3 linked regions of the Homo sapiens genome follow. The protein of the gene in region 2 interacts with the protein of the main gene of each other region in a biochemical or structural test. Each region holds a gene or a part of one and is shown on either strand. Other genes may lie near its edges.

Evidence for each region. The genes of interacting proteins can lie anywhere in the genome.
Region 1: the proteins of COPG1 (region 2) and DRD1 form a complex in vitro, tested with the Homo sapiens proteins (one study listed by BioGRID).
Region 3: the proteins of COPG1 (region 2) and COPA form a complex in vitro, tested with the Homo sapiens proteins (one study listed by BioGRID).

The regions. Positions count from the first base shown.
Region 1 is NC_000005.10:175,441,383-175,445,397, reverse strand, and holds the start of DRD1 (D(1A) dopamine receptor), read left to right. Parts: upstream 1-1,215; 5' UTR 1,216-1,699; intron 1,700-1,815; 5' UTR 1,816-2,298; coding exon 2,299-3,639; 3' UTR 3,640-4,015.
Region 2 is NC_000003.12:129,259,606-129,263,105, reverse strand, and holds part of COPG1 (coatomer subunit gamma-1), read right to left. Parts: intron 2,774-3,500; coding exon 2,706-2,773; intron 2,488-2,705; coding exon 2,299-2,487; intron 1-2,298. UniProt on the Homo sapiens protein: The coatomer is a cytosolic protein complex that binds to dilysine motifs and reversibly associates with Golgi non-clathrin-coated vesicles, which further mediate biosynthetic protein transport from the ER, via the Golgi up to the trans Golgi network.
Region 3 is NC_000001.11:160,333,251-160,336,750, forward strand, and holds part of COPA (coatomer subunit alpha), read right to left. Parts: intron 2,073-3,500; coding exon 1,992-2,072; intron 430-1,991; coding exon 353-429; intron 1-352. UniProt on the Homo sapiens protein: The coatomer is a cytosolic protein complex that binds to dilysine motifs and reversibly associates with Golgi non-clathrin-coated vesicles, which further mediate biosynthetic protein transport from the ER, via the Golgi up to the trans Golgi network.

The DNA.
Region 1 (4,015 bases), on a different chromosome or scaffold from region 2:
TCCAGTTTGTGGGCTCCTGTACCACATGCGGTGAGTTAAAAGAACAGGTGGGCAGCGGCGCGGCTCCCGCGTGAGCTGTGTGACTTTGAGCAGGCCCCACTACCTTTCCGAGCCGCATTTCCACCTGGGCGAAGCGGGTTGAGCCGGCCTGGCGGGGAAAGATTCTTTTAACGGGGGAACAACGTAAGGCGTGCACCGGGGAACACGGATGCTGCTGAGTCAATGCCCGCTCTGCCGTTCTCTTTGAGAGTAAGGCTTGCGTCTCGCCTGCTCTAGCGCCCCAGGTTTGAACGCAGTGGGCGCGCAGGAGGAAACATAGATTCACGAATGCAATGCCAGCAAAGTAAAATTTTTCACCCTTGTCCGTTTTTCAGGGTGTTTCAAGCGGAGGAGTCCTGAGTGGAGAAGATTCCGCTTCCCTGTTTTCAGGTTCTGGCAGTCATGGACCGGGAAGAGCGAGTCGGGGCGCGGGTCCCTGGCGGTCGCTGGAACCCTTGTGAGTGAGGTTGGTGCCCGCGAGGGCACAGCGGGCGCTCGGGAAGTCGCAGCCGCCGGCAGAGGGCGCCCCGGGCACACGGAGCGCGCGGCGCTGGGGTTGGGGCGCTCGGGAGGTGCGGGGCACCGGCTGGAGTCCGGCGTTGACCGCAGCCGGGACGCGCCCGCCACCTGGGCGGGGAAGGAGTGAGTCCCCTCGGGGCGCAGCGGCGCGCGCTGGCCCGGATCCCAGCTGCGCCGCGCCCTCCCTGCGAGCGGTGAGTACAGGCGCCCACGGGCATCTCCAACCCTAGTTAGGGGACACTTGGAGACAACGCAGGTCGGACGTCCGCCGGCCGTTCTAGGAGTTGGTGTGCGGGGAATGGGGGGTGCTCCCGCTCGCTTAGGGCTTTGGGTCCGGCTAGGGGTTGACCCCAAGAGGCGCTGGATGTCGGGGCTGAGCTTTGCTTTCAGGGGACTCAAGCTTACTTGAGGTTCTGACATTGGATTTGCCTCGCGGGCCCTGCGCGTGCTGCGCGGGGATCCGGAGACTGGCGAGGTAACCAGGGAGGGCAAGCACTCACCGGGGCGTCCTCCGCCCACCTCGCCCGCAGAACCATCCAGGGGGACCACGTGCGGCTGTCGCCCGCAACTCTGCCTGTCAAGCGAGGACCGCCCCCAGGGCAGGGGAGGGGACGCGCGGGCGGGGTGGGCTGTGCCCCGCGGGAACCCCGCCGGCCTGTGCGCTTGCTGGTGCCAGCTCGGCTCGCTGCCTCGCATTGCCACAGGCTCCTGAGAGGTCGCGGGCAGTGCCTGCGGGGAGGCGCGGGGCCCTGCTCTGTAGGGCTGAAGGCCGCCCGAGGTTCGCCAAGGCTCTGGGCTCTCGAAAGGAAGCCAAGAAAAGAAGCTGCCCAGGTGACCAGTCCTGGGAGTGCTCTCTCCCAAGGAAGCTCCGAGCGCCCAGGAGCCCTTAGCCGGGGTCTAGTGCCCTTTGAACAATCTCCAGCTCTTCAAGGAAGTGGGCTGCCGCCGCCTCTCTTGGGACCTGGCCTGGGATCCTTTCCCCAAACGCACCCCGGCGATTTTTGCGCACCGGGAGCCGAACCCCTGCTGCGCGCAGCTGGCTGGGCTCAGGCGCGCTTCCTCAACGTTTCGGAGCCGCTGCCCCCAGCGAAGTCCACATTCCAAGCTCCAGGGGCTTTGAGAGAGACGACCCCAAGGCAAGGTAGGTGGCTCGGACGGGCTCGCCCTGGGAATTATTAGGTTGGGCTTGACGTGAGTAATGATGCCATCTGCTTAAGTCTTGGAGAAAGACCGTGTGTTTTCCTTTTGCTTTTTAAGGCGTTTGGAGAGCTGCTGAGGAGCCAGGGGCTTGGAGGAGCGAGAAGACATGTATTTTCAGCTGAGTCTCAGAAGGGGAGAATCTCCTGTCACCACCAGAAAAGCAACAGCCCCGAAATGTGATTGCAACTGACTAGCAGAGCAGAGGCCCAGGAGTCACTGGATTGATGATTTAGAATATGCTAAAAAGCCAGTGCTTTATTTGGGGAATTCAGGGGCTTTCTGGTGCCCAAGACAGTGACCTGCAGCAAGGGAGTCAGAAGACAGATGTAGAAATCAAGAGTGACCATCCACGGGATTGACTTGGATTGCCACTCAAGCGGTCCTCTCATGGAATGTTGGTGAGGCCCTCTGCCAGGGAAGCAATCTGGCTGTGCAAAGTGCTGCCTGGTGGGGAGGACTCCTGGAAATCTGACTGACCCCTATTCCCTGCTTGGGAACTTGAGGGGTGTCAGAGCCCCTGATGTGCTTTCTCTTAGGAAGATGAGGACTCTGAACACCTCTGCCATGGACGGGACTGGGCTGGTGGTGGAGAGGGACTTCTCTGTTCGTATCCTCACTGCCTGTTTCCTGTCGCTGCTCATCCTGTCCACGCTCCTGGGGAACACGCTGGTCTGTGCTGCCGTTATCAGGTTCCGACACCTGCGGTCCAAGGTGACCAACTTCTTTGTCATCTCCTTGGCTGTGTCAGATCTCTTGGTGGCCGTCCTGGTCATGCCCTGGAAGGCAGTGGCTGAGATTGCTGGCTTCTGGCCCTTTGGGTCCTTCTGTAACATCTGGGTGGCCTTTGACATCATGTGCTCCACTGCATCCATCCTCAACCTCTGTGTGATCAGCGTGGACAGGTATTGGGCTATCTCCAGCCCTTTCCGGTATGAGAGAAAGATGACCCCCAAGGCAGCCTTCATCCTGATCAGTGTGGCATGGACCTTGTCTGTACTCATCTCCTTCATCCCAGTGCAGCTCAGCTGGCACAAGGCAAAACCCACAAGCCCCTCTGATGGAAATGCCACTTCCCTGGCTGAGACCATAGACAACTGTGACTCCAGCCTCAGCAGGACATATGCCATCTCATCCTCTGTAATAAGCTTTTACATCCCTGTGGCCATCATGATTGTCACCTACACCAGGATCTACAGGATTGCTCAGAAACAAATACGGCGCATTGCGGCCTTGGAGAGGGCAGCAGTCCACGCCAAGAATTGCCAGACCACCACAGGTAATGGAAAGCCTGTCGAATGTTCTCAACCGGAAAGTTCTTTTAAGATGTCCTTCAAAAGAGAAACTAAAGTCCTGAAGACTCTGTCGGTGATCATGGGTGTGTTTGTGTGCTGTTGGCTACCTTTCTTCATCTTGAACTGCATTTTGCCCTTCTGTGGGTCTGGGGAGACGCAGCCCTTCTGCATTGATTCCAACACCTTTGACGTGTTTGTGTGGTTTGGGTGGGCTAATTCATCCTTGAACCCCATCATTTATGCCTTTAATGCTGATTTTCGGAAGGCATTTTCAACCCTCTTAGGATGCTACAGACTTTGCCCTGCGACGAATAATGCCATAGAGACGGTGAGTATCAATAACAATGGGGCCGCGATGTTTTCCAGCCATCATGAGCCACGAGGCTCCATCTCCAAGGAGTGCAATCTGGTTTACCTGATCCCACATGCTGTGGGCTCCTCTGAGGACCTGAAAAAGGAGGAGGCAGCTGGCATCGCCAGACCCTTGGAGAAGCTGTCCCCAGCCCTATCAGTCATATTGGACTATGACACTGACGTCTCTCTGGAGAAGATCCAACCCATCACACAAAACGGTCAGCACCCAACCTGAACTCGCAGATGAATCCTGCCACACATGCTCATCCCAAAAGCTAGAGGAGATTGCTCTGGGGCTTGCTATTAAGAAACTAAGGTACGGTGAGACTCTGAGGTGTCAGGAGAGCCCTCTGCTGCTTTCCAACACACAATTAACTCCGTTTCCAAATACATTCCAGTGTATTTTCTGTGTTGTTCATAGTCAATCAAACAGGGACACTACAAACATGGGGAGCCATAAGGGACATGTCTTTGGCTTCAGAATTGTTTTTAGAAATTTATTCTTATCTTAGGATTTACCAAATAGGGCAAAGAATCAACAGTGAACAGCTTCACTTAAAATCAAATTTTTCTGGGAAGAAAATGAGATGGGTTGAGTTTGCTGTATACAA
Region 2 (3,500 bases):
TCCTCTCCTTCTGAATTACTCCAACAGTCTCTTTACCCAGTCACCCCTCCACTCTGCTCCAGAAGGACTCTTTTTTTTTTTTTTTTTTTTTGAGACGGAGTCTCGCTCTGTCTGGAGTGCAGTGGCACGATCTCGGCTTACTGCAACCTCCACCTCCAGGCCAGGTCAAGCGACTCTCCTACCTCAGCCTCCGGAGTGGCTGGGACTACAGGTGTGAGCCACTACACCAGCTAATTTTTTAATTTTTTTAGTAGAGACAGGGTTTCACCATGTTGGCCAGGCTGATCTCAAACTGCTGATCTCAAGTGATCTGCCGACCTCAGCCTCCCAAGTGCTGTGATTACAGGCATAAGCCACCGCGCCCAGCCAATTTTTTTTTTTTTCAGACAAGGTCTCACTCTGTCACCCAGGCTGGAGTGCAGTGGCATGATCATGGCTCACTGCAGCCTCGAACTCCTGGGTTCAAGTGATCCTCACACCTCAGCCTCCAGAGTAGCTGGGACTACAGGTGCGCATCACCACACATGGCTAATTTTTAAAAAAATTTTCTGTAGGCCGAGTGCGGTGGCTCACGTCTGTAATCCCAGCACTTTGGGAGGCCAAGGCGGGTTGATCATGAGGTCAGGAGATCGAGACCATCCTGGCTAACATGGTGAAACACCGTCTCTACTAAAAAATACAAAAAATTAGCTGGGCATGGTGGCGGGTGCCTCTAGTCTCAGCTACTCAGGAGGCTGAGGCAGAAGAATGGCGTGAACCCAGGAGGCGGAGCTTGCAGTGAGCTGAGGTCACACCACTGCACTCCAGCCTGAGCAACAGAGCGAGACTCCAACTCAAAAAAAAAAAAAAAAATTTGTAGAGATGAGGTCTTGCTACATTGCCCAGACTGGTCTCAAAATTCAGGCCTCAAGTGATCCTCCCTCCTTGGCCTCCCAAAGCACTGAGACTACAAGCATGAGCCACCGTGCCCAGACCCAGAAGGATCTAATATGCAAATCTCACTGTGTCATTTCAGCCTGCAAAGCATTCTTGTAACCCACAGGCAGAGTAGACTGCTGCCTACTTTGCATAATCCACACTATAGAATTTACCACAATATATTATTCATATTATTGTTTGCTCTGATTAAAACTCTCCGGTGACATACTTCATTGTTCTATCAATTAACAATTGTGAAATAACAGAATTACAGAAATTGAGAACAAATTAATGGCTGCCAGGGGTTAGGGAATAGAGAGGTAGGAATGGGCCTGACTATGAAGAGGTAACAAGAGTCTTGTGGAGATGGATAGTTGAGTGTCTTCACTGTGGTGGCAATTTTGAAAGTCTCCACATGACATCTTGCATAGAACTTCACATATATACACACAGGAGTTGCCTGTGTAGCTGGTGAAATCTGAATGAGCTCTATGGGTCATGCCAGTGTCACTTTCCTGGTTGACATTGTCCTGTGCTAGTGTAGGATGCTGGCACTGTAGGAGAGGGTTGATGGAGGGGTGCATAGGACTTCTCAGTATATTTCTTTGTAACTTCCTATGAATTATTTCAAAATATAAGCTCAAAAAATATTCACATCCTTCCTCCTGCCCCAAAAGAACACCTTTCCAATGTCTTCCTTGCAATTAAAACTCTTTACCTGACCATGGGCCTTACATGATTGAGCCCTGTCTATTCTGACTTTGTCACCTGCACTGGCCCCACAGCTCTTCCACCCACTGGCCTTCTCTCTCCTTGACTTGCTCCTGCCTTTCCTCCTGGTTCTTTGCACTGATTCAGGTTTGAGCTCAAATGTCACCCTCCAGAAGGGCCTTCCCAGACTGTGCTCTTCCTAGGATCATCCCTGCTGTATTTCTACACTCTTGACTGCAGTACCCATGCCTGAGATGATCTCGTCTACTCCTTTCTTTACCTGTTTACTGTTCCTCTCCCATCCCTAGAAAGGAAGCTCCAGGAGGGCAGTCACCTGCTTTGTTCACTGCTATGTTCCCCTTTTGTCACTCTACATAGCAGACAGCAAGTGCTCAAGAAATACTTGGACAACAAATCAATGAACCCTTAACTGGCCTGGAAACTACTGTTCTTTCAGTACAAGGGGACGATATGGATGGAGGCCTGGAGGCAGGACTACGCACATTTCTCGGAAGGCCAAGTCTCTGCAGAGCAAACTGCTGGCCTCCTCTGAGTCCTCAAGGCTGACCAGCCCCTCAGGTCAGTCCTGGCAGGAAGGCTGTGGCCACAGAGAGCAGGGACAGAGCTCCTTCCTCTGGGGGCCGTGGGTGTCCTGGGGGTAGCAGGTACCTTGAATTCATCCGAGATTTCTGACATGAAGGAGGAGATCTGCTTCATGAGGCGGTCGATGCTGCTCTCGCTGCCCGTCTTAAGGAGGGTGGTGATGGCCAGCGTGGCAATGCTGCGGTTTGAATCTGTGACCAGGTTCTCCAGATCCAGATTACAAGCTGTCACAGCTGACGGATGCTTCATGGCAACCTGTTTTGGGAGGACAGTGACAGAGAGGGCAGGAACCCAATGCTGTCACTACATTTGATGGTTTGGCCCAGTCAGAAGTCCTTTGGATGAGATCATCTCACCATCTAGAAGAAACTAACTGTGACCAGGGCTATTATCCTTCCCAGCCAGGTCAGAGGCTAGGACACACCTCCAGTTGGATCAGACAGCTTCCTCCAACCCCCAAGCTGGACTCTTACCTTATTGAGGGTACGAACAGCAGCATAGCGGAGAGCAGCCTTGGGTGAGCTGCAGAAAAGCTGGAGCACTGTGGGGAGATGGATGCCACATGTCAGGTTGCCTTCACTGCTGGGCAGCTGGGAAAACCGGGGGCTACTGTTCTGACTCAAACCCTCTGCTCAGCTCATTTCCCTGCTGACACCCCCATCCCAACCCAAGACACAGAGCTCCCCTCACCCTGCGCACCTGAGCCATGGACAGAGGCCATAATGTCTGTGAGCACCCAGGGGTTCCAGTGAGGGCTGTTATTCACTGGGCATCTGCTGTGTGCCAGGTGCTGTGCTATACAGTGGACATGCCTCACTTCTATAGCTTGCAGCCACCACTAGCCCACTTTACAGATAAGGAGACTGAGGCACAAAGGGGAAAGCAAACAAACTTTAGGTTGGCAGCCAGTAAGTGGCAGAACCAAGATTAAATTCCAAGACTGCCTGCACCTGCAGCCTAAGCCCTTAACCTCTGTGAAGTAATATTCCACTCCTCTCTCCTACTGTGTCTACAGGATCCAACAGAACTTCCCCCTTGGCACCAAGTGCTGAAGAACAAAGTCCTCTCTTAAACAAATGGTTTATTTCCTTTAACTAGATGAGAGCCATTCGGGTACCATATCCCTCCCTTGCCCTGGCTGCCCGGAAGCTCAGAGCTAAATTTGGCACTCAATCATAGGAGCGAAGATGACTACTGTTTTCTGGAATATCTATGTTCCTTTCTTCATAACTTGGCTTTTATTCTCTAATACTCAAAAAAAATTTTTC
Region 3 (3,500 bases), on a different chromosome or scaffold from region 2:
CTCTTCATGGAAAGTTCTATGTAAAGCTCCAGCTCCAAACACAAAATAAGACAAAGGTCTAGACCTTGACTCAGGTTTTATGGGAAAATAATTGAAAACCAGCTAAAAGTTCTTGTTCTAAAAGGCTATATGACTTCTCTTCCTGGTAAGAAATTATTGGAAGTCCAGATTCATATATGGGATTGCCTCTACATTTATTATTTTGCACTTAAAAGCATCCTACAAATACAATCAGTAATTAATCAGCCGACATAGTCCATTTGAGAAGGGAGAAGATTGTTCTAAGAGAAGCTCATTATGAAAAACTAGGAAAAATGAAGACTCTTTTCGAGCCCTCTGCCTCCTGCTTTACCAAACACAGGTTCTAGATTGCCAGTTCCACACTCGGATGGTCTGATCATCGGAGGCACTCAGAATCCAGGGATATTCCTGAAAGATATTCCAGACAAAGGCTTTAAACATTAAACAAATCTGTTCTATCAGGTTCTTGTAATCATTTTTCTCTAAAGAACTGCATTGCTTAACGGCTCAGCTACATTAGCAAAGGGGCTGCTGCTTTTGCTATCAGGTTAGCTGTCTCCTTTTCTCTACCACTCTAACAGCTTTTCTCAACTTCGGCACTTTCACCTATAAGACTTAAGAATGGAAGCCAGTTAGAGGCACAATACATTCTCAGAGGCAGATAGTGAAACATACATTTACATTTACTTCTATATGTGTGTGTGTGTGTGTGTGTATTTATATACAGTTAATCATGTAAATTAAGATCCTGTGAAAGACTCTTCTACCTTTAACTCTAGGATGGGAATATTATTTTATTGTCTGACTTCTTTCTGTCCAGTTTCAAAAAATTCCCAGGTCTCAGCAAGCAAAGCAGAAAGTAACATGTAAAGACAATTTAGCCTTTTTGGAGTCTATAAGATTGTTGAGAAAAGGAAGTATTTCTTATTTACACTTCCTTCTTACTACACTTGCTAAGCTTTGTGTTAAACACTGAAAATAGATGGTATTTCTATTTTCAATAGAGATAGTATCTCTACCTTCAGTATTTAGCACAAAGCTTAGCAAGTATAAGGCACACACATATTTAGTGAGCTGGTAAAATGAAAGAAAATAAGGTCTTTCGTAACTTTCCAGGTAGATGGCAACTTGTTCTAGGCAAGGGTCTTCAGGAAGTCCTTTATGGCAATGACAAATAATTCCTACTTAATAAGTTATCTTATTGAGTGGTTATCATTCTCAAATGTTTAAGCTGTAATTTTCTCATTCTCTCCTATCCTAGAATTTTTTAATTAAAAAAAGAAATAATATATACTCAACCAGTAAATTGTTTATTTCATCATATTCTTTCTAACTTAATTAAAGAGACTTAATTTACTGGCAATCAAAGAATAGTGTAAGTTAATGCTAATACACAGAACTATAAGGAGATCCTGTCAGGGTGCAACTGGATTCAGAGGTTGGGAGTCTGTAATCTGCACCTCACTATCTAAATCTACTATGTTACCTGGCAGATCAAAGAAAGTAGTAAGCCTGGCTAAGGGAACAGCCTCCACCAGACCCAAAAATCCTAGGATAGAGGGGTATGATTGTTAATACTTCGAAACGTTTGTTAGCTGATCAAAATGGCATCTTAGTCTGACCTTCTTCCAGACACACCTACTACTTACTAATAATACCCTACATGGGATTAGCTGGCAAACTTTTGTTTTTTGGTTCAGCAAATCTGAAATCAAATCCCTACTTTTCCCTACAGAGAAACAATGACTTCCCATAGAATCCACTGAATCCAATAAAATTAAATTCAGTATAATCCCAAGTGCTTCCTTTTGCAGAAAGAAAAAAAGCAGAAAGGACAATACCACACAGATTGTAGAAGAGCCACTCCAAAAACAACTCTATTATTAAAACATGGGTTCTCAAGGATCAAATAAAGATTACTATGGGGAAACTAAGAATGCTCCAAAACTAGCGCCACCATGACTACTTACATGATGAAAAAACGTGGTGCGAATATAATCTAAGTGCCCAAGCAATGTGAAAAGACAGCGCCGAAGCTTGTAATTCCAAACCTGCAAAGACAAATCAAACTAAGAAACAGAAATAGTTATTGAGCCTCTAAAAGGCTCAGAGAAATTGATATCTTTACAGAGATAGAAATATGTATATAAATATAGATTTATATACATTATTTGTATTTTGGCATTTCTAAATAGGTAGGAACCTTGGTAGAAAGCCTTGTTTAAGATTTGAGGGGAAAAGAACAAGAATGAAAATATAGGTCAGATAAACAACATGGGGTTGGGGTAGGATTAGGGAAAAGCTAAAGATAAAATTATTGAAGTTTTTCAGGCTGGGCGTGGTCACTCATGCCTGTAATCCCAGCACTTTGGGAGGTCGAGGCGGGTGGATCACAAGGTCAGGAGATCGAGACCATCCTGGCTAACATAGTGAAACCCTGTCTCTACTAAAAATACAAAAAATTAGCCAGGCGTGGTGGCATGTGCCTGTAGTCCCAGCTACTCGGGAGGCTGAGGCAGGAGAATCGCTTGAACTCAGGATACAAGAGGTTGCAGTGAGCCGAAATCATGCCATTGTACTCCAGCCTGGGTAACAGAGCGAGACTCAGTCTCAAAAAAAAAAAAAAAAAAAAAAAGTTTTTCTTTCTTTGGGAAGAAGCCATCTGCATTTAATAGCAGGAGATATTTATCCAGGGCTTGATTTGCAACTCTTTTTTCTACTGCAAAATTGTGCTCTTGGCTTGAATATAGACCCCTTAAGTGCTTTACCCATCACTTTTAAAAAGTATGACAGGCTGGGCACGATGGCTCATACCTGTAATCCCAGCACTTTGGGAGGTCAAGGCAGGGGGATCACCTGAGGTCAGGAGTTTGGGACCGGCCTGGCCAACATGGGGAAACCCTGTCTCTACAAAAATACAAAAAAAAATTAGCCGGATGTGATCCCAGCTACTTGGGAGGCTGCGGCAGCAGGATCACTTGAACCTGGGAGGCGGCGTTTGCAGTGAGTTGAGATCGCTCCACTGCACTCCAGCCTGGGCGACAGAGAGAGGCTCGGTCTCAAAAAAAAAAAAAAAAGTAGGACAGATAGATACCATGACTCCAAGGGAAACAATAATATAGGGCATCAGCTTCTTAGGCTCCTAACTTGATGGCAAACAACGCCCATACATGTGTGGTCTGTACTCACCTGTCAAGCAAACAGACCTTAACTTATTACATGGAAAATACTACATTGCTCAGTAAGCCTGAGCTAAGCAGAGAAACAATATCATATTCAGATGTGAAGTTGAGTCAACTACCAAAGTACTAGGCATCAATGAACACAACTGAAGACATGAAAACCAGGATCATAAATATAAAATAGCTTATCTTCCTCATTCAGAAAATCCCCTAAAATGTACAAAAATAAGAGACCAGATGCATTTTTCTTCTTATTTAATTTTTTTAAATTTCTTTTTAATATTTGTTTATAATCAA